Linked DNA regions of Homo sapiens: region 1 is linked to region 2. The links come from fine-mapping of genetic effects on gene expression. Tissue or cell type: monocytes. Region 2 holds a variant in brackets; the other region holds the start of a gene. All regions are shown on one strand. Distances are between the middles of the regions.

The links. PIP is the estimated chance that this variant, and not a neighbour inherited with it, causes the effect.
Region 1: it holds the start of NELFA, and the variant in region 2 is fine-mapped to the expression of NELFA in monocytes (TOPMed, PIP 0.97).

The regions. Positions count from the first base shown.
Region 1 is chr4:2,004,920-2,015,359 of GRCh38, reverse strand. NELFA (negative elongation factor complex member A) reads left to right here and starts at 6,386. Exons shown (of 11, transcript NM_005663.5): 1 at 6,386-6,610. The coding sequence starts at 6,401. LOC124900839 reads left to right here. Exons shown (of 4, transcript XM_047416543.1): 4 at 5,187-6,354. The coding sequence starts at 5,599. The coding sequence ends at 6,354. RefSeq lists a silencer at 5,636-6,015 and enhancers at 6,076-6,595, 6,203-6,703.
Region 2 is chr4:1,981,878-1,992,317 of GRCh38, reverse strand. NELFA (negative elongation factor complex member A) reads left to right here. Exons shown (of 11, transcript NM_005663.5): 2 at 603-774; 3 at 2,449-2,610; 4 at 4,311-4,400; 5 at 5,916-6,046; 6 at 6,135-6,204; 7 at 6,454-6,542; 8 at 7,399-7,510; 9 at 8,205-8,470; 10 at 8,623-8,722; 11 at 8,815-9,595. The coding sequence ends at 8,999. MIR943 (microRNA 943) reads left to right here and starts at 5,841; the gene lies at 5,841-5,934. It overlaps NSD2 (nuclear receptor binding SET domain protein 2), which reads right to left. Exons shown (of 22, transcript NM_001042424.3): 22 at 10,126-10,440. RefSeq lists an enhancer at 1-510. The variant T/C (reference allele first, on the strand shown) is at 5,788.

The sequences.
Region 1 (10,440 bases), 23 kb before region 2:
TTTTTCTGGCATTGATTTTGAGTTTTTAAAATATTGCATTCAAATACCATTTGTTGTGATGGCTGAGTGTTCTGACCCCTGTTAAGCCTCCCTCAGCTCTCTCCCCTTGCCCGGGCCCTGGCCCTGAAAGATAATTCATCTTGACAAGTAAGGCTCCTCTGAGGAGCACAGGGACGGTTGAACATCAGAGATCCTATCATGACCTTGGGCACCACATTCATAGCCTAAAGGAAGGGCAGCGTGAGATTTTCTCAACAGATGCGGAAAAGCTCATTTTTCTTAAAGAGAAACACTGTTAGGATGAAAACTCTGGAACATAAAGGAAACAAGAAAACTTCCTTAAGTGGACAAAGGTGATCCACTAATAACTTAGATTATTTCATGGATAAAATTTAGACATGGGCCAGGTGTGGAGGCTCAGCACTTTGGGAGGCAGAGGCGGGAGGCAGAGGCAGGAGGATCCCTTGAGCCCAAGAGTTTGAGACTAGCCTGGGCAATATAGCAAGACCCTGCCTTGTGAAAAAAAAATTGGACATATACCTTTACGACTGAAAGCAAGACAACAGGATTCTTACTGCCCTGCTAATGTTCAACAGGACTGGAATCTTTGGCCAATACCAAAAAAATAATAAAGGAAAAGTATAAATATACATGGAAGACACAGAACTGTCATTGTCTGTAAATGAAATATTCAGAATAACCAACTAAATCAACCCACTATTAGAATAAATATAGGAGTCCATAAAGGTTGTTGGATGTATGTCCAACTTAAAAAATAGTATTTCTCGTATTCATAATAACCAACTGGAAAATAGAATACAGGATATCATTCATAAGAGCATGAAATACACTAAGGCATCTGAGTTAAGCTAATGAAAATGATTAGGAACTGTATGAGGCCTGGCGCGGTGGTGCACACCTGTTATCCCAGCTCTTTGGCAGGCCAAGGTGGGAGGATTGCTTGAGGCCAAGAGTTTGAGACGTCATCTCTACATAGTGAGACTTCATCTCTACAAAAATTTCAAAAGCTAGCTGGGCATGGTGGCACGCGCCTGTAGTCTCAGCTATGAGGCTGCAGTGAGCCAAGATTGTACGGCTGCACTCCAGCCTAGGCAAGAGTGAGACGCTATCTCTAAAAAAAATAAGTAAGAAAGAACTGGCCAGGCGTGGTGGCTCATTCCTATAATCTCAGCACTTTGGGAGGCCAAGGCGGGGAGATCACTCAAGGCCAGGAGTTGGAGACCAGCCTGGCCAACATGGCAAAACCCCATCTCTACTAAACAAACAAACAAACCACAAAAATAGGCTGGGTGTGGTGGCTCACACCTGGATCCCAACAGTTTGGGAGGCCGAGGTGGGCGGATCTGAGATCAGGAGTTCGAGACCAGCCTGGCCAACATGGTGAAATCCCGTCTCTACCGAAAATACAAAAATTAGCCAGGCTTGGTGTTGCATGCCTGTAATCCCAGCTACTCAGGAGGCTGAGCGATGAGAATCACTTGAACCCGGGAGGCGGAGGCTACTAGGGAAGGTGAGAGGCAGGAGAATTGCTTGACCCCGGGAGGCGGAGGTTGCAGCGAGCCGAGATCGCGCCACTGCACCCCAGCCTCACCAACAGAGCGAGACTCTATATCAAAAAAGAGAAAAACACAAAAATTAGCTGGGCATGGTAGCATATGCCTGTAGTCCCAGCTACTTGAAAGGCTGAGGCATGAGAATCGCTTGAGCTTGGGAGGCGGAGGCTGCAGTGAGCTGAGATCGCACCACTGCATTCCAGCCTGGGCAACAGAGTAAGACCCTCTCTTAAAAAAAAAAAAAACTGTATGGAGAAAAATAGTAACGTCTACTGAAGATCATAAAGAAAGAAAAATGAAAGCTTGTCTGTGTATCATATACTATATAAAGATGTCAGTTCTCTCTAAATTAATCTACAAACCCAATGGAAAGCCAATCAAAATACCACTAGGGTTTTTTTTTAGAAATTCAGTAAAGTTGTAAAATTTATTGCTTTAAAGTAAAAATAAGGACTTTTTTTTTCCCTTTGGTCGCCCAGGCTGGAGTGCAATGGCACGATCTCAACTCACTGCAACCTTCGCCTCCCGGGTTCAAGCAATTCCCCTGCCTCAGCCTCCCAAGTAGCTGGGATTACAGGCGCCTGCCACCACGTCCAGCTAATTTTTGTATTTTTAGTAGAGACGGGGTTTTACCATGTTGGCCAGGCTGGTCTCGATTTTGAGATGGAGTTTCCCTCTTGTTGCCCAGGCTGGAGTGCAATGGCACGATCTCCGCTAACTACAACCTCCGCCTCCTGGTTTCAAGCGATTCTCCTGCCTCAGCCTCCTGGGTAGCTGGAATTACAAGCGCCTGCCACCACGCCCAGCTAATTTTTTGTATTTTTAGTAGAGATGGGGTTTCACCATGTTGGCCAGGCTGGTCTCGAACTCCTGACCTCAGGTGACCCGCCTGCCTCAGCCTCTCAAAGTGCTGGGATTATAGATGTGAGCCACCATGCCCAGCCAAAATAAGGACTCTTTATGTTGCAGAGTCAGGCAAATAAATTAGAAAAAAAGATAAAACTGCCTTCACAAATGGCATGATTGTCTTTGCAGAAAACTAATACAATGTATGAAAAAACTACTGGAACAAATAAATGCGTTTAGCCAGGCTGCAGGATACAAAATCAACACACAAAAATCTGTTGTATTTCTATATACTGGCGACAAACACTGATAAATTAAAAATTTTAAACAACACCCTTTACAACCACATCAAGGTTATGCAATACTTGGAGGCAATTCTGAAAAGATGTGCAAGACCCTTACATTGAACACTACAAAATGGGGCTGAGAAAATTTATTTTTTAATTTATTTTTAATTTTTTAGAGACAGAGTCCCACCATGTGGCTCAGGCTGGTCTTGAACTCCTGAGCTCAAGTGATCCTCCCACCTCAACCTCCTAAGTAGCTGGGACTACAGGCGCACCACCAGCCCAGCTTTTTATATTTGTTGTAGAGATGGGGTTTCGCCACGTTACTGAGGCTGGTTTCCAACTCCTGGGCTCAAGCAATCCACCCTCCTCGGCCTCCCAAAGTGCTGGGATTACATAGCCATGAGCCTAGCTGAGAGAATTTAAAGACCCAAATAAACAGAGAGAAATACTATGTTCACTAGACAGAAGTTACCAGTTCTCCCTCAACTGACCTACAGATTCAACACAATTCCACTCAAAATGCCAGAAGCCTTTTTTTTTTTTTGTAGAAATTGACAAACGATTCTAAAATTTATATGGAAATGCAGGCTGGGCACTGTGGCTCACCTGTAATCCCAGCACTTTGGAAGGCTGAGGTGGGTGGATCACTTGCGGTCAGGAGTTCTAGACCAGCCTGGCCAACAGGGTGAAACCCCGTCTCTACTGAAAATACAAAAATTAGCCAGGTTTGGTGGTGCATGCCTGTATTCCCAGCTACTTGCAAGGCTGAGCCATGAGAATTACTTGAACGCAGGAGGTAGAGGCTGAAGCAAGCTGAGATTGCATCACTGCACTCCAGCTTGGGCAACAGAGCCAGACCTTGCCTCAAAAAAAAAAAAAAAAAAAAAAAAAAAAAAGGAAATACAGAGGACCTAAAATAACCCAAATAACTTTAAAAAAAAAAAAGTCAGAGAATTAACACTACCTGATTTCAACACTTATTTTAGAAAGCTATAGTAACCAAGACAGTCTGGTATTGGCATAAAGATAGATGAGTAAGTCAGGATAGAAAAGTCCAGAAAGGATCGTCATTTCGACAAATAATATGGGAACAACTGGATACCATGTTTTAAAATGAAAAAAACTTTGGCTTTCTAATTTTGCAATCTGATAGGTGTAATGAGGCATCTTGTTATTTTAATTTGGGTTTGTCAGGTTGCTGATGAATTTAAGCATCTCTCCATGTGCTTCTCCGGTATTTGGGTTTCTCCTACGAATTGCTTTTTTTTTTTTTTTTTTTTTTGAGACAGAGTCTCGCTCTGTGGCCCACGCCTGAGTTCAGTGGTGTGATTTCCGCTCCCTCCAACCTCTGCCTCCTGGGTTCAAGCGATTCTCCTGCCTCAGCCTCCTGAGTAGCTGGGATGACAGGCATGAACCACCACGCCCCACTGTTTTCGTATTTTTAGTAGAAACGGGGTTTCACTATGATGGCCAGGCTGTGAATTGCCTATTCTTATCTTCTGCACATTTGTCTATTGTCGGTCTTTTTCTCGTCGATTTACAAGCATTCCTTTTTTCATTCTGAATATTAATCCATTGCTTTCTGATGCTGTAACTAAGTCCTCCTAGTGGTTTGTCTTCTTGGTTAAGCCAGATGTTAACTTGGATTTTTCCTGCATAAAACTGAAGACTCAAGATGCATCAAGCACTGTATACAGAAAAGTGCTGCGTATCCTACAGAAAGCTACAGACAGTTGGGGGTCAGAATCATTCGGATTGTTTCAAGTTTGGGGCTATTATAAATAAAGCTGCTATAAACGTTTGCACACAGGTTTCTGTGAACAAAAATTTTCATTTCAACCAACTAATGTTTACGGTTCAATCATGATTTCACAACTTGAAGTAACTTTCACTCTTCTCATACTAAATTTGATATGTCGTCCACTGTTAAACTATTTCTTACCCTCAGATTATAATTATTAAACTTTTTTTTTTTTTTTTGAGAGGGAGTTTTGCTCTTGTGGCCCAGGCTGGAGTGCAATGGCAAAATCTCGGCTCACCGCAGACTCCGCCTCCCGGGTTCAAGCCATTCTCCTGCCTCAGCCTCCCGAGTAGCTGGGCTTACAGGCAAGCCATGCGCCACCAAGCCCGGCTAGTTTTGTATTTTTAGTAGAGACGAGGTTTCTCCATGCTGGCCAGGCTGGTCTCGAACTCCCGACCTCAGGTGATCCGCCCGCCTTGGCCTCCCAAAGTGCTGGGATTACAGGCGTGAGCCACCGTGACCGGCCTAATCATTAAACTTCTTTCAGCACTAGCCCCACTGATGTCACAACTTCACCCATTAGTCAATAACTTGTCTTTGCTGAATTCGACACTTTTGAATCATTTAAAAAATATTCTCTTAAATTTTATGTGCTATTTGCAATGTAACGGTTGTCGACATGACAGTTTTAAGTTTAATCTTTATCATCAACATTTTCTCTATCACTTTCTTCAGTTTAAGCAATCAACAAAACCACCGCTCCAGCACTGATTTGTAGCATTTGCGGGTTTCCCCCGTGTGACTTCCGCAGGACTGCCAAGTTCAAGCCGCCAGGGCCAGGGCACTGCTAGCAGCTGGGCTGAGCCCTGTTCTCCCGGCGTTCCCACCGCCCAGTGGCAATAGCTGTGAACGGCGGCAGGAGCATGGCAGTGGAACAATAAGGAAAAGATCTTTTAAAAAAAAGATATAATACAGAAGCCAAGCAAGGCGGCCCCGACCTGTAACCCCAGCACTCTGGGAGGCAGAGGCGGGCGGGCGGATCGCTTGAGCCCAGGAGTTTGAGACCAGCCTGGCCAACATAGGAAGGCCTCGTCAAAAAGACAAAAGGGTAAAACGAATTTAATAAAATGAAGTTTAACTTTTACTCATGTTTGTATCTAATGACAAGCTTTTAAAACTGAAAAGTTCACTACTGGCTCCTGCCTGGCGGCTCCAGCCCGACTGGGGGCCGGGGCCTCCCTGCACTGTGGGGTCACGAGTGCCCCTGGACAGCTCCCGAGCGCCCTCCGACCCGCATGCTCAGCGCAGCCCCGTCGGCGGCGCGCCACGGGCAGAGCGGGCTCAGCGGGGGACGGAAGCTCAGCGCTGCGACCGGGATCCCGCAGGCTCGCTCCGCAGGGCCGCGGCTCCTCTCCGTGCAGGTGCTGGGCCCGCGGGGGCGGGGCGTCCACACGGTCCGCGCCGAGACCCAAGCGGGGAAAAAGCGAAGAGCGGACAGCGGGGCAGGTGCCACAGGGAGCCTCCGCCCCACCGCGCGAGCAGCAAGTCTGCGGCGCTTGACACCTGCACTGCGAATGCCAGGCCGCAGCCCGGGCTCCCAAGACGCGAATACGCGCGCCTGCTCGTGACGTCATTTTTTGCGGTCTTCCCGAGAGCCAGCAGAGGGCGCCGCCATGATGTTTTACGGAAGCCGATAGTCCTTGCTCAGCGGCACCCCGTCCTTCCGGCTCTCGGCTTTGCCACAAAGCTTCCCGAAGACGCGGCCGCTACCCGGAGACGCGGTCGCCACCCAGAAGCGCTCTCCCGGGAAGCCCCGCTCGTGGGACCGCGCCACCTGCGCCGCCTCTGCGGCCCGCAGCCCGACGGGCGCCGCCATGTTGGGGTCCTAGCGAGGGACGCGTAGGTGTCTTCATAAGATGCCGGGGCAGCGGCGCGCGCTTTCCCCCAAGATGGCGTCCATGCGGGAGAGCGACACGGGCCTGTGGCTGCACAACAAGCTGGGGGCCACGGACGAGCTGTGGGCGCCGCCCAGCATCGCGTCCCTGCTCACGGCCGCGGTCATCGACAACATCCGTCTCTGCTTCCATGGCCTCTCGTCGGCAGTGAAGCTCAAGTTGCTACTCGGGACGCTGCACCTCCCGCGCCGCACGGTGGACGAGGTAAGGCAGGCGTGGCGCCCCGCGGCCCCCAGATTCCCAACCTTCCCACCTCCGACCCGCACACCCAACTCCGGACCCTCCTCGCTCCCTCCCCCAACCTTCCCATCCCCCTTCAGACTGTTAACCCCCCCGGCCCGCCCTCACGCCCCCTCCTCGCTCCTCCGAATACCTCCCTCCAGTCCTCACCTCCCCCTGGGTCCTCATCCCCCGCCTCGATCCTCATCTCCCACCTCGGTTCTCATCCCCACCGTGGGTCTTCAGGACCCCCCGCCCCTCCTCGCCCCCTGGGAATCCCCCACTAGGGTCCTCACCTCCCTACTTTTCGTCCTCACCCCTACCCAAGTTTTCACCTCCCCTGGGATCCTCAATCTCCTCCCCGCCGGGCCCCGGGTTCTCGCTACGACCCCCAGGTCCTCACTCCCCTCCCTGGGCCCCCGGGTACTCATCCCCACCCGCCCCCGCCTCCCCCGCCTTCGGTCCTCACCACCCTAATCCCCCACCGTGCCGAAGCGACCGACTCTTGGAGCGGGGGTGCGCCGGCCCCAGCGGGGTCTCCCATCGGGGTTTCCCGTCGGGGACGCAGCCCTGGTGACCTGGGCGAGGGCGGGGATCCCGAGAGAAACCCCCGCGTGAGGAAGGGGCGGCCTGGGCTCGGTAGCTCCAGTGTCCGCTGACTGGATTTTCTTGTTCTCACCTCGCAAAGACCCCGGCCGTCCGGAGCGCTCTGTGTCCGTTTTACTCTTTTCTACACGCCGTTTTGCGTCATTCCAATAAGTGGGTGTGTGAGGTTTGTTTTCTTTTTTCCTAAACTTTATATTGTATCGCTTTCCGTGCGAAATAAACCGAGTAGTTTTGCAGACTATTGAAGCCCCATGGTTGTTTAAACGTTCCTGGCTACTGATGTATTATTAGCTATTATAGGTTGTAATTGCTTTTGATTGAGATATGACATGTATGGAAAAGTGCATTTTTGTTCAGTTTAACGAATAATAATAGCATCGCGAGCCACTCCTGTGATCCTTACACAGGTGGAGAAGTAGAACCATGCCTGTTCCTTGGAAGCCTCCCACTGGTAATCACGGCCTTCTTCCTTTCCCCTTCCTCATTTTGGAAAGGTAATCATTTCTGTGCCATCTCCCCGGTGTGAGCAATTATTTATGCACCCCTAAATGGCACAGCTTGGTTGCCGGATTTGGAGTTAGTGTGATGGTATCATAGTGTATTTTGTGTGTGGCGTGCATGTGTCTTTTTGGTCGACGCCGTGACAGTTTCATCCACGTTGCAGCTGACTGCAGTTTAATTTTCACTGCTGCGTGGTATTCCTGTCTGTGAGCACGAGGCACTTTATCCATTCTGCCACAGTGACACGCTTAGCTTTTGTGCTCTTGTAAATCATCCCGTTACTACATTACGGTCATATGTTCAGGTGTTTGGAATCTTGGATTTCTCTAGGGTATAACATCTAGGAGTGGAATTGTGAGGATCATAGGATCATGCCAAATTATTTTTCAGAGTGTTTTGTTTTTGTGTTTGTGTTTTGTTTGAGACAGGGTCTGGCGCTGTCAACCAGGCTGGAGTGCAGTGGCACCATCGTGACTCACTGCAGCCTTGACCTCCTCACCTCAGATCTTCCCATCTCAGCCTCCTGAGTAGCTGGGACTACAGGGTTTCACCATGCTGCCCAGGCTGGTCTTGAACTCCTGACCTCAAGCAATCTGCTTGCCTCAGCCTCCTGAAGGGCTGGGATTACAGGTGTGAGCCATGGCACTCGGCCTGCTGTTTGGTTTTCTGCTTTGAGAATTGTATATTCAAATCTGCTTTTAAATTCTCTTTTTTCCCATTGTTTTGTAAGAGTGTCTTTTTTATTATTTATTATAAATGCTAGATATCAGTCCTTTTTCAGTTACAAATATCTCCCAGTTGTCCTTTGACTTTGACTTAGCTTCCTGGAATCCTTTTTTTTTTTTTTTTTTTTTTTTTTGAGACAGCGTCTCACTCTGTCACCCAGGCTAGAGTCTAGTGGTATAATCATAGCTCACTTTAACCTTGAACTCCTGGGCTTAAGCAGTCCTCCCTCCTAAACCTCTGTAGTAGCTGGGACTGATGCGCTGCCACCACGCCTGGCTAATTTTTGTGCATGTGTATGGAGATGGGGGTCTTACTGTATTGCCCAGGCTGGTCTTGAACTCCTAGCCTCAAGTGATCCTCCTGCCTTGGCCTCCCATAGTGTTGGGATTACAGGTGTGATCTGTGCGCCCAGCCCTTTTCCTGGAATCATGGATGAATAGAAGCTCCTAGTTTTAACATAGATGGTGTATTCATCCGCCCACTATCATTGGTGCCTATTGTGTCTCCCCGAGGGACATGCCCGGAACACTCCCTGGGTTATCTTGGCGTAGCTGTACAGTTTTACCTTTCGCACTTGAATCTTCAGTCTGCGTGGAATTGATGATTGTGTGAAGCAGGGAGTCTAATTTTCCACATGGATGTGCAATTAGTCCAGCACCCAACGTTGATTGAAATGACTGTCCTTTTCCATTGATCTGCACTGCAGCTTCTGCTGTGGATGTGTTTCTGGGCTGTGCTCTGTTCTTTTGGTCATTTACATATCGATGTGCTAATAACCCACTAAGTCGGTTCTTGTCACTTTATTTATAAGCCTTGTTAGCGGACGGAGCAAACCCTCCCACTGTATCTTTCTCCGGGATCATCTATGGCTATTCTTGTCCCTTCACACTTCCACATGTATCTTATATACTTACTTCTTAAACACGTAGAGCCTGCCTGCTGGGATTTTAAGGCTGAGCTGAACTTGCAGTTCATTCTGGGGTGCTGTCCTCTTTATATTGCATCCTATAATTTGTGGGTGTGGGCTTATCTATTTAGATGTTCTTTGTGATCTCTGTAGGGGTCTTCCATCTCATATATTACCACCTATTTCATATTTTTCCATGCCGTTGTAAATGGTATCTGTTAAAGTCTTAGTTTTTACTTGTTGCTGGTATATAGAAATGCGTTGATTTTTGTTTTTGTTTGTTTGTTTGTTTGTTTGTTTTTTAGACGGAGATCTCACTCTCTCACCCAGGCTGGAGAGCAGTGGCGCGATCTCAGCTCACTGCAACCTCCTCCTCCTGAGCTCAGGTGATTCTCCTACCTTAGCTTCCCGAGTAACTGGGATTACAGGCATGCACCACCACACCTGGCTAATTTTTGTATTTTTAGTAGAGATGGGGTTTCACCATGTTGGCCAGGCTGCTCTCGAACTCCTGACCTCAGGTGAGCCACTATGCCCAGCCTGATTTTTGGATAATGAATTTGTGACTAGTATCTGTGCTAAAGTTTTGCTAGTTGCAAAATTTTTTTTTTCTATAGAATCTCCTTGATTTTTCTGTGCACTTCATATTATTTTTCTTTCTCCAATTACCTTTTGTTTTTTTTCTCGTCTCACTGGACTGGCTAGGACCCTCCAGCTCATTGTCTTACCTCCGATCACACAGGGAGAACTCGGAATGTTTTGCCAGTGAGCATTATGTTTCCTGTTGTCTTTAATAAATACCCTTTATCTAGTTAAGGAAATTCTCTTCTTAGAAGACTTGTAAAAAAAAATCTTTTAATCATGAATTTTTTTAAAATAGCTTTATTGGCTGGGTGCAGTAGCTCACACCTGTAATCCCAGCACTTTGGGAGGCCGAGGCGGGCGGATCACGAGGCCAGGAGATCGAGACCATCCTGGCTAACATGGTGAAACCCCGTCTCTAAAGAAAAAATACAAAAAAATTAGCCGGGCATGGTGGCAGGCGCCTGTAGTCCCAGCTACTAGGGAGGCTGAA
Region 2 (10,440 bases):
GGGGCCACCTCCAGGCTCCACGAGCGCCAACTCCCAGCGCCGTCCAGACCCAGAGGCAGCCGTCCCTGCCTAGATGGTGACTAGGCACCAGCTCAGCTGTCACGGGTGCTGCCCCAGGTCCCAGGCCCCACCCCCTGCTGCCCAGGCACACACCCCCGCGGCAGGTGACTCCACCCTGCTCCTGCGCTCTGCTGTGCCGGGCACCTGCCTGCTCTACGCCCCTCATCCCCAGGATTTCCCACCCGCAGGCTTTCTGCGGGAGCAGTGGTGGCCCCGGCTTCTCACCCTTCAGGTTTTCTTGCATCTGCGCACCGGTGGAAGAGTAGGCCCAGTGGACTGGGTGCTGCTGGGAGGTGGGAGGCTGCTGGGAGGGCACCGGATGCCGGGGCCTTGCAACCTGGCAGAGGCTGTGCTGCTCAGGGAAGCAAGGTGGCCCTGGGGTGAGGCGGGGGGCTCAGAGGAAGGGGAGCCCTCAGGAGGAAGTGTTGGGGGCAACTGCCAGAGAGCCCGGCCACTGCCCAGTGCCCATCCGGAAGCTCAGCAGGGAGTGGGCTTGGAAGTGGGCAGGGGCATGGTGGCGCCGGCAGCATCCTATTTTGCAGATGAAGGGCGCCCTAATGGAGATCATCCAGCTCGCCAGCCTCGACTCGGACCCCTGGGTGCTCATGGTCGCCGACATCTTGAAGTCCTTTCCGGACACAGGCTCGCTTAACCTGGAGCTGGAGGAGCAGAATCCCAACGTTCAGGATATTTTGGGAGAACTTAGAGAAAAGGGTATGTTGTGCTGCTTTAATTCATGTTGGGTGGAGGGAAATGGATCTTTCTTGAAAAATTTTTTTCTGAAATGAATTTGATTTTTAGACCTTTACGTTTTTCCGTGTGTCCTGGTCCCTAGAATATTAACTGTATATGCACCATCCTCCCCCGTAAGCTGCTGCCTGGCTTTTGCCATCTTTGAAAACAAACTCCAAACAGCCCACAGGCCCCATCCTCACTGCTGCGGTGTCAGTGGGAGGCTGTGTCACGCCACTCGCCGTCTCTCTCTGGTCGGCTCCGTGAGGGTAGGGGCTCTGCCCATTCAGGTGGTATCTGTAGATCCTAGGTTCTAGGGCCCAGAGCATTCCCTGGCCCAGAGTACATGCTCAGAAATGCATGTTGAAAATATCAACGATTTAGTTGTTTAAATGTGAACTGAAAGTCACTTAGAAAATATTCACAAGGCTGGGCTCCGTGGCTCACTCCTGTAACCCCAGCACTTTGGGAGGCTGAGATGGCCAGATTGCTTGAGCCCAGGAGTTCGAGACCAGCCTGGGAAACATAGCAAGAACCCATTTGTACAAAAAATAAAAATTAGGTGGGCGTGATGGCACATGCCTGTCCTCCCAGGTACTTGGGAGGCTGAGTCAGGAGGATCACTTGAGCCTGGGAGGCCAAGGCTGCAGTGAGCCATGATCGCGCCACTGCACTCCAGCCTGGGTAACAGGGTGAGAATGTATCTCTTAAAAGAAACAACTATTTGTAGATGGATTTGAAGAACATGTCTTGATGGGATGCTTGATGCTTGTGCTTTTCTGAGTTTCTCTCCTGCTTTGGACAATTGGAACTGGCTCCTCAGAGCCCAAACGTTGTGCCCCAGCTCCTTCAAGGGCAGCACCCAGAGAGACAGGGTTGTGGGATGGAGACATCGAGGCTGCACACTCCTGCAGGGGCCCTGCTGGCCACCCCCCTGCAAGTGGCACCTCTCCCCACCTGTGAGGTCACACACACCACACAGATGCCTCTGGAGCAGTGGTCTGGACAGGTCCACCCCACCCCACCCGTTCGTGTCTCAGGAGTGTCCCGCGGGCAGGAAGGCTGAGGCCGGTGAACTCTCATGTGCCTGCCTGTGCTTTTTCTCCAGGTGGGGCACGTAGCCAGTTCAGGTGGGAGGTCGCCTGTCCCTCGTGGGGCAGTTTCTGGGATCTGAACCGTGGGTGAGCACACAGGCTGAGGAAATGGATGTGGGCAGTTTGGATGAGGGCCAGGGTTCCAGGAGAGACCACCAGCCTGGCTACCCTCGGGGACGGGAAGAGAGAAGCCACAGATCGGGGGTCCTTCTTACGTGGGGGTGGGATCTGTTAACATTTCATGTTCTACAAGTGTCTGGAGCCCTCCAGGAATCACTGTATCTATGTCCGCCTGTGGTTCTTGGTGTCCGCGGTGCCAGAGGTTTCCAGTTTACAGCCCTCTCAAGGCATGCCCGCCTCTCAGGCATTCCTGTTCTGCAAATGCTCCTGGGTGTTCTGCTGGAGCCGTGGGGAGTCAGTCTCGAGGACCTCAGGGGACAGCCGAAGCTCCCATGACCTAACCCTAACTGAGGAGGGTGTGGGGCTGGGCAGCCGCCAGCTCCTCTCAGCCGGGAGGTCTGCGGCCTGGGCGCCCCTAACTTCATGTGGTTCTTACCGGCAGTGGGTGAGTGTGAAGCGTCTGCCATGCTGCCACTGGAGTGCCAGTACTTGAACAAAAACGCCCTGACGACCCTCGCGGGACCCCTCACTCCCCCGGTGAAGCATTTTCAGTTAAAGCGGAAACCCAAGAGCGCCACGCTGCGGGCGGAGCTGCTGCAGAAGTGTGAGTGGCCGCGGCCGCCATCGGGCATTGTCTTTGTAGTTTCCAGTCATAGGTTTCTTAGGTTCTAAGGTACCAAGACTGCCCCTTCAAGGTGGCGTTCTGGGCCAGGCATGGTGGCTCACACCTGTTGGGAGGCTGGGGCAGGTGGGTCGTTTGAGCCCAGGAGTTTGAGACCAGCCAAGAAACCCCATCTCTACCAAAAGTACCAAAACATTAGCCGGGCATGGTGGTGCGTGCCTGTGCTCCCAGCTACTCGGAAGGCTGAGGTAGGAGGATCACCTGAGCCCACGAGGTTGAGGCTGCAGTGAGCTGTGATCACACCACTACACTCCAGCCTGGGAGAGAGTGAGACCCTGTCTCAAGAAAAAGAAGATAAAGTTCTGCATAAAGTTTTTTGTTAGAAGTTTATCACTATATTAAACTTTATGTTCTGAAAACATGCTTTAAAAACTTCAGAATTTAGGCTGGGCATGGTGGCTCACACCTGTAAACCCAGCACTTTGGGAGGCTGAGGCCAGCAGATCACCTGAGGTCAGGAGATCGAGACCAGCCTGGCCCACATGGTGAAACCCCGTCTCTACTAAAAATACAAAAATTAGCTGGCTGTGGTGGTGCATGCCTGTAATCCCAGTTGCTTGGGAGGCTGAGGCAAGAGAATCACTTGAACCTGGGAGGCGGAGGTTGCAGTGAGCCAAGATTGCCCCACTGCACTCCAGCCTGGGCAACAAGAGCGAAACAACATCTCAAAAAAAAAAAAAAAACCCACCAACTTCAGAATTTTAGGTGAAGGCATCTCTAATCTCTGTGACCAAATGAACTCTGTGCCAGCTGAGTCACGCTGTTGGGCACGGTGGGTGCCAGGGTGAATGGCTGGAGGGGCACGTTCCTTACTCTCACGTTGCTGCCTTCTGGAGTGGCGGGTGATCTCAATTCCACTTGAAAGATATTTAATCATTTCAGTTAACGTTTTCCCAAAGCACGACAAAGATTTCAATAACATCGTTTTATTTTGAATGGTTATGGAATTAATATTTATAATGTACATCAATACCCCGTTTCCAGAGAATCCAAATAAAAGGCTGACAGCAGCTGTGCATGGATCTTGGCTGGAACGGGCAGCAGCCAGGGCCCAGCGCTGTCCGGGAGGCTCCGTGCAGCCCCGGGCCCACTGGGTAGCCCAGGAAGGACTCTGCTGGCCCCTTGGGCCCCACCCCCTTTGGAGGCCAGCAGTGGCCACAGGGTCTGCTTTGGGCACTCGGTGTCCCCTGACCCTTCAGCCACACTGAACCAAGTCAGGAATATCTCTTCGTTTGTTTCTTCCTCATATTTTTGTATCTAGACCGTGCCTGCTGACCCTCAGCGAGGACGGTGCTACCACTGGGCCAGGGGGAGGCCCGGGTCGATGGAGAGGGCTCATGAGGTCCCTCAGCTCCTCCTCGGCTGCCTCCCCCCTGCCATGGGGTCCTGGGAGGTGCAGCCACAGCCACCCAGCTCCCGAAACTTGCTCACCTGAGTGAGTTTCTGACTCGTTGTAAAGTGCGAGCTGGTGTCAGGCCCGGCTCGGAACAGCTGCTCATTTAGAGAGAATGCAGCGTTCACGGCTCAGGCCGTCGGATGAATCCACTTGACAGAGATGTTTTTACAAGGGCCAAGGGCTCTCGCTCTGAGGATCCCTGACATATGTGACCTCTTCCTTCCAGCCACGGAGACCGCCCAGCAGTTGAAGCGGAGCGCCGGGGTGCCCTTCCACGCCAAGGGCCGGGGGCTGCTGCGGAAGATGGACACCACCAGTAAGGCCCCCACCCTGGTGCCGTGAGCCTTGCTTTTGGGGCAGAGCTAAGGGCTTCACCTGGAGACCCGCTCCCTGTTGGGGAGGTGGTGCCTGTGAATGGTCTTCAGGCAGCAGTGTTGGGAGCCCGTGGGAAAGCGAAGGCACTGGGGCAATTTCACCGGCTTCTCCCCTTGGGGAGCTCCCTGGGAGGATGTGTGGGCACGGAGACAGGAGGGCCGGGATCTGAGGACAGTGCTGGGCACGGAGACAGGAAGGCCGGGATCTGAGGACACCGCTGGGCATGGAGACAGGAAGGCCGGGATCTGAGGACAGTGCTGGCCCCTGCTCCTCTGCTGTTGGCACCGGTGGCTCTCGGCCTTCCCAGCTCGGGCTTTCGGCCCCAAGTGCTGCTCTTGGGTTCCGAGTGTCCCTGGGCGGCTCCGCGGGGAGGACGTGACCGTGCTCAGCTGCCCGTGGGGCTGTGCCCCCCGCACCCCTCCATCTGCCCTTCCTGATTTGTGCTCTCAGGGCTGGGCGTGAGCTTAAGCAGGATGCACCCTGATCACAGGAAGACGGCGTGCCCCTGGGAACCATGGCAGGGCATACTCACCCCAGAGGGTGCTGGATAGTGACCTGGGGGCCAGAGGGCAGGACGGGTGTCGTCCTGTGCTGAGACAGCTGGGTAAACTTGCAGATGGGTGGGGCTGAAAGGGCAGCCTTACAGGCGCTCTCCATGCAGCTCCCAGACCAGCCTGGCTTAGTTTATTTGGGCTCCCATAATCCCACAGTGTTCACATGGGACCTAGTAGAAGGCATCTTGGGTCTGCTGACTATTGTCGCTGTGTGGGGGGCCGTCCCTGGGTCATGTTCCTGCCCACCGCAGCCGAGGTTCCACCTTGCTCTCCTCTACCCCGCCTGGAGCAGACCCTTGTCTTTCCACCCCCACCAGGCATCCCAGGGCCAGGGCTGCACCTGCTGGCCCAGGGAGGGTGGGCCAGCCGTTGAGCAGTGTGTCCAGCCTGGCCCGGTGTGCTGATGGCACCATCCCCCGGGCGTCCTCTCTCCGGGCCTGGCACCATGAGAGCCACGCACGCCTTGGAGGGTGCGTGTGGGCGCTGGTGGGTAACAGCGTAGGTAGGCCTCAGGAGTGTCCTCAGGGGACGGGGAGAAGGCTTGGGAGGGCGGCCCTCAAGCCCAGGCGCCTGGCTTCATGCCCCTGCCGGTGGAGGCACAGGAAGGAGGCAGAGCTCAGCCCCCGCCACACTGGTGAGAGACTCCACCTGGTGAGATCCTGTGGCTGGGCTGGGGTGCCGCTGTCTTTGTTTGGTGTCTTGGCAAAGTGTGAGGTCGTGGCTCCAGGCGTTCCCCTGCTCCTTGAGGTCCGGGATCCTGGGGGTCCTGCCCGC[T/C]GCCCGCCAGGGGTTTGGCCCTTCCCCTCTGCGGCGCTAGCCTAGAAGAGGGTGGGACGTTCTGAGCTCGGGGTGGGGGACGTTTGCCGGTCACTGCTGCTGGCGCCCTGACTGTTGCCGTCCTCCAGCCCCACTCAAAGGCATCCCGAAGCAGGCGCCCTTCAGAAGCCCCACGGCGCCCAGCGTCTTCAGCCCCACAGGGAACCGGACCCCCATCCCGCCTTCCAGGACGCTGCTGCGGAAGGAACGAGGTGTGAAGGTAGGCCCGTCCCCCAGCTCCTGTGGCACCCCGGGGCCCGTTGCGCCCTGGTGCCGTCACTAAGGCAGGGCTGTGCTTGTCTTGGCAGCTGCTGGACATCTCTGAGCTGGATATGGTTGGCGCTGGCCGAGAGGCGAAGCGGAGAAGGAAGACTCTCGGTGGGGGTTGGGGCCTGCGTGTCGGCGGCAATGGGGGTCCCTGCGGGCCCTGCCCAGTTGGGGTGGGTTGTGCCCACGCTCGGCGGGCAGGGCTGTGCCCCGTGAGGCTGCTCTCCGTGGGTGGGTGCCTGCTTTTCTCCTCGCTCCTTGGTGGCCTCCCCTGGGAAGCTGTTTGATTCCCTGCCGCTGCCCTGAGCTGACACTGCAGACGCGCCCGGGCACTGGCGAGGACTCCTGTTTTGTCCACAGATGCGGAGGTGGTGGAGAAGCCGGCCAAGGAGGAAACGGTGGTGGAGAACGCCACCCCGGACTACGCAGCCGGCCTGGTGTCCACGCAGGTAGGGCTCGGGGCTGCACCCCATGTCTGGCACCACTGCGGGTGCCCCTTTTGTTCCGATTGTGGCCACTAGTGTGCTCTGTCGGAGAATATATATATGTATGTACATATGTGTGCAGTCTGTATTTATGTATATATACGTATATGTACATGAGAGGCAGTGTGGGCCGTGCCCTGACATGGGCATCTGACTCAGGCTTGGAGCGGGAACCTGCCCCACGCTTGCTGGAGGGGCTGCCAGGGGAGTCCTCCTCAACCCTGTGCCTCAGTGTCCCGTCAGGCAGGGCTGGTGGGACCTAAGCCTTGCACGTGGCCGTGAATGGGTGCAGGACAGGCCTGTGGGGGTGCTGGGTGGTCAGAGGCCTCAGTGTCCCGGAGACCAGGCCCTGCCTGCGGGTGGGAGGCAGCCACGGGGCGCGGCAGGTGCACAGAGGCTGCAGTGGGTCGTCTGAGGCCAGGGCCTGGAGGAGGCCACACTGTGGGGTCACTTCAGGATAATAAGCTCCTTTCTTCCCGCCGCTGCGTGTTCTGTGTTTCTTAACATGAGCATCTTCCTTTATATCAACGCTTCGTGGTAAGAAAAAGCATCGCTCCTTCTGTGCTCAAGATGGGCTGTTTGGGCTCCTCAACCCCTCCCCTCTCCTACACAGGAGCGGCTCAGTCCCCAACTCTGCTGGGGCGCCAGGGGCCAGGGGTCCCGTTGTCTAGCCCAGGGAGCTCGGGAGAGTGGCCCCCGCCTTCCTGCTCTAGCTCGGGGGGCCACAGCCTGTGGCAGTGGAGCTCCGGGTCGGGCCATGTGTTAGCACATGCCGGAAGCATGGCCTCTTCTGGAAGGAACCTTAAACTCTGTGTTCCAGAAACTTGGGTCCCTGAACAATGAGCCTGCGCTGCCCTCCACGAGCTACCTTCCCTCCACGCCCAGCGTGGTTCCCGCCTCCTCCTACATCCCCAGCTCCGAGACGCCCCCAGGTGAGTCTGCTGGCCCCAGCCTGGAACCAGCCAAGCTGCCTGCCAGGACATGACCTTGCCCACGGGCGCTGCCAGGGCTGCGGTTCTCACTCCTGCATCTCTGTTGTCCCCCTTCTGCCTCAGCCAGAATCTGCTGGGGGCAGATGCCCCGCTGTTCAGCTTGAGCTCCAAGACATAAACCAGCTGCTTTGCCCCACCCTGCCCGTCCTGGGCACAGACAGGCAGCGGCCCCAGGGGACACGGCAGGAAGGGGATTGGGTTCGAAAGGGTTTTCTGCCAGGTGACCCAGCTCTTGTTGCTGGGTAGGCGGGAGGGGAGCTGAGAGCCATCCCCTCCCAGACGGAGGGCACTGCCAGGCTCACAGCACCTCAGGCCAGGTCCTGGGCCCAAGGGGCTTGAGGATACAGCCTTCCTGTCTTCCCAGCAGTGCCTACGGTATGGGGACCTGCTGCAGGCCAGCAGCTGGCCAGAGTCCAGACATCTTATCTGCGAGTCTGGAAAGGCCTGAGACCACTGGCCTTGTTCCTCTGGCTGGGGCTTCTGGGGCCTGTGCCTTGGCTGGGGGCCACAGGGAGTTCTTGTCAGAGGGTAGCAGGACAGAGAAGGGGAGCTGAGCCTGTCACCTCCAGGAGCACTAGGGTTTGGGAACAGGGTGGGGGTCCAGCCCCCTCACCAGGCCCCGGTCTACTTGCAGCCCCATCTTCCCGGGAAGCCAGCCGCCCACCAGAGGAGCCCAGCGCCCCGAGCCCCACGTTGCCAGCGCAGTTCAAGCAGCGGGCGCCCATGTACAACAGCGGCCTGAGCCCTGCCACACCCACGCCTGCGGCGCCCACCTCGCCTCTGACACCCACCACACCTCCGGCTGTCGCCCCTACCACTCAGACACCCCCGGTTGCCATGGTGGCCCCGCAGACCCAGGCCCCTGCTCAGCAGCAGCCTAAGAAGAACCTGTCCCTCACGGTAGGTGTACACTGGTAGGGCCCACAGGCCACCAGGTAGGTGGTACGGCCCTGGCCACCTCCCCTAGCGTGGGGGTGCCACGGTGCCTGCAGGGGGATGCAGGAGGTGGTCCTGGCGGGGCCCTGGCACCCACACCCCTCTCCCCGCTGTAGAGAGAGCAGATGTTCGCTGCCCAGGAGATGTTCAAGACGGCCAACAAAGTCACGCGGCCCGAGAAGGCCCTCATCCTGGGCTTCATGGCCGGCTCCCGAGGTATGTTCATAAGGCAGGGCCTGGGGGTGCACCGGGCCGGGTTGGGGGCGGGTGCCCCCAGACACCCACCCAGCAGCTCCTGCTCTCTGCAGAGAACCCGTGCCAGGAGCAGGGGGACGTGATCCAGATCAAGCTGAGCGAGCACACGGAGGACCTGCCCAAGGCGGACGGCCAGGGTAGCACAACCATGCTGGTGGACACAGTGTTTGAGATGAACTATGCCACGGGCCAGTGGACGCGCTTCAAGAAGTACAAGCCCATGACCAATGTGTCCTAGAACCACCTGCCTCACAGCTGGCCGTCACTTGTGGGGGTCCACGGGACGATGGCTTTGCCAGCTTAAAGTAACCGGATGGCGGACACCTGGCCCCCGAGGTCCCCCGGCCGCCGCCCTGCTGCTGACCCAGCCTGTTTTAAGTTCTGGATGCATTTCTCTGGGGTATTTGGGGCTTATTTTTAAAATTTTAATATGGGTTCTTTTTTGTGTGATTTAAGACACTTTTTGGACTCAACGTTACATTTTTGAATGTAGTAAGTAAATTAACCAAAAAAGTTACAACTTCCTAATTTTAGTGACAGCTCTGCCTGTTAGACTCTTACTTTTTAAAATCTTTTCTATTTTCCCTCGCTGGGGCAGTGCCCTCCTACCCCCAGGGTTGAGGGGACCAAGGTGGCACGGTGGTACTGGGGGTGCGGCAGGGACACCCGACCACACCAGAGCGTGGGAGACGGTGGGCCTTGTCCCCTGCCTGTGCCTGCCTGGGAGTTTTGTATTCATCTTTTGTATAGTTGTGGACATTTAAGACAGTCTTTGGGTACCTATTTTCATTGTAAAACTATCTGAACCATTAAAGTCGAGCTTTTCTAAAGAAAGCCACCATAGCTGTGTTTGGGGCCAGCTTGTCCTCCCTGCTCCGGGGACCCAGTCCCTCCCTAGGCGGCCATCAGGACGGGGTGGGCCAGGGCTGGGGGCTTCCTAGGACACCCTGGCCCACAGGGTGGGGAACAGGTAGGATCAGCCCTCGGGGTACTCCCTTGACTTACTTGGCTGTGGGCCTGGGGACCACCCGGCTCAGCCGACTGCAGGGCTGGGGGACAGCAGTGCTTCCTTCTCTCTAGACCATTTCACCCTTAATGGGAATTTGGGAAGCAAATTATTTCTGAAAGAAGAAGAAAGCATTTTTCCAAAGTCAGTCAGTTATGCCTGCTATTTCCAGTATTTGTTGTTATACTTCCCAAGGTGGCACTGCCTCTCCCCAGCGGGTCAGGTCAAAGGCAAAATGACACAGTCAGGACAGGGAGCCCCACCCATCGGAGGCATCAGTGCCACACCCGATGCTTTGCAATTCAAAGTAACTGGAAAAAAAATCAAACAATCCCATATAAAATAAGTTAAGAAAAAAGCCTTTAAAATGTTTTTAATACAAAAATACTCATACACAATTTTCCAAACACAGCTTTCCATTTTAAATGCTATTTTCCCCCAACTGGCAAGTCTCAACTCTCTATTTCAGTATATCCCTCCCCCCAAAAAGTGAATTTCAAGTTTTTAAGTCTAACTATCAAACCTGGTGACAGCACCCAGTATTCCTAAAAGGAATCTGACCTTACATTGTATGAAGTTTAGACACCAATAGGCACATTTAAGTTTGTATTTAATTTCTGACGGGGCATTTCACACCTCAACAGGGTATGGTGAGGCTGTGACACCCCGTGGA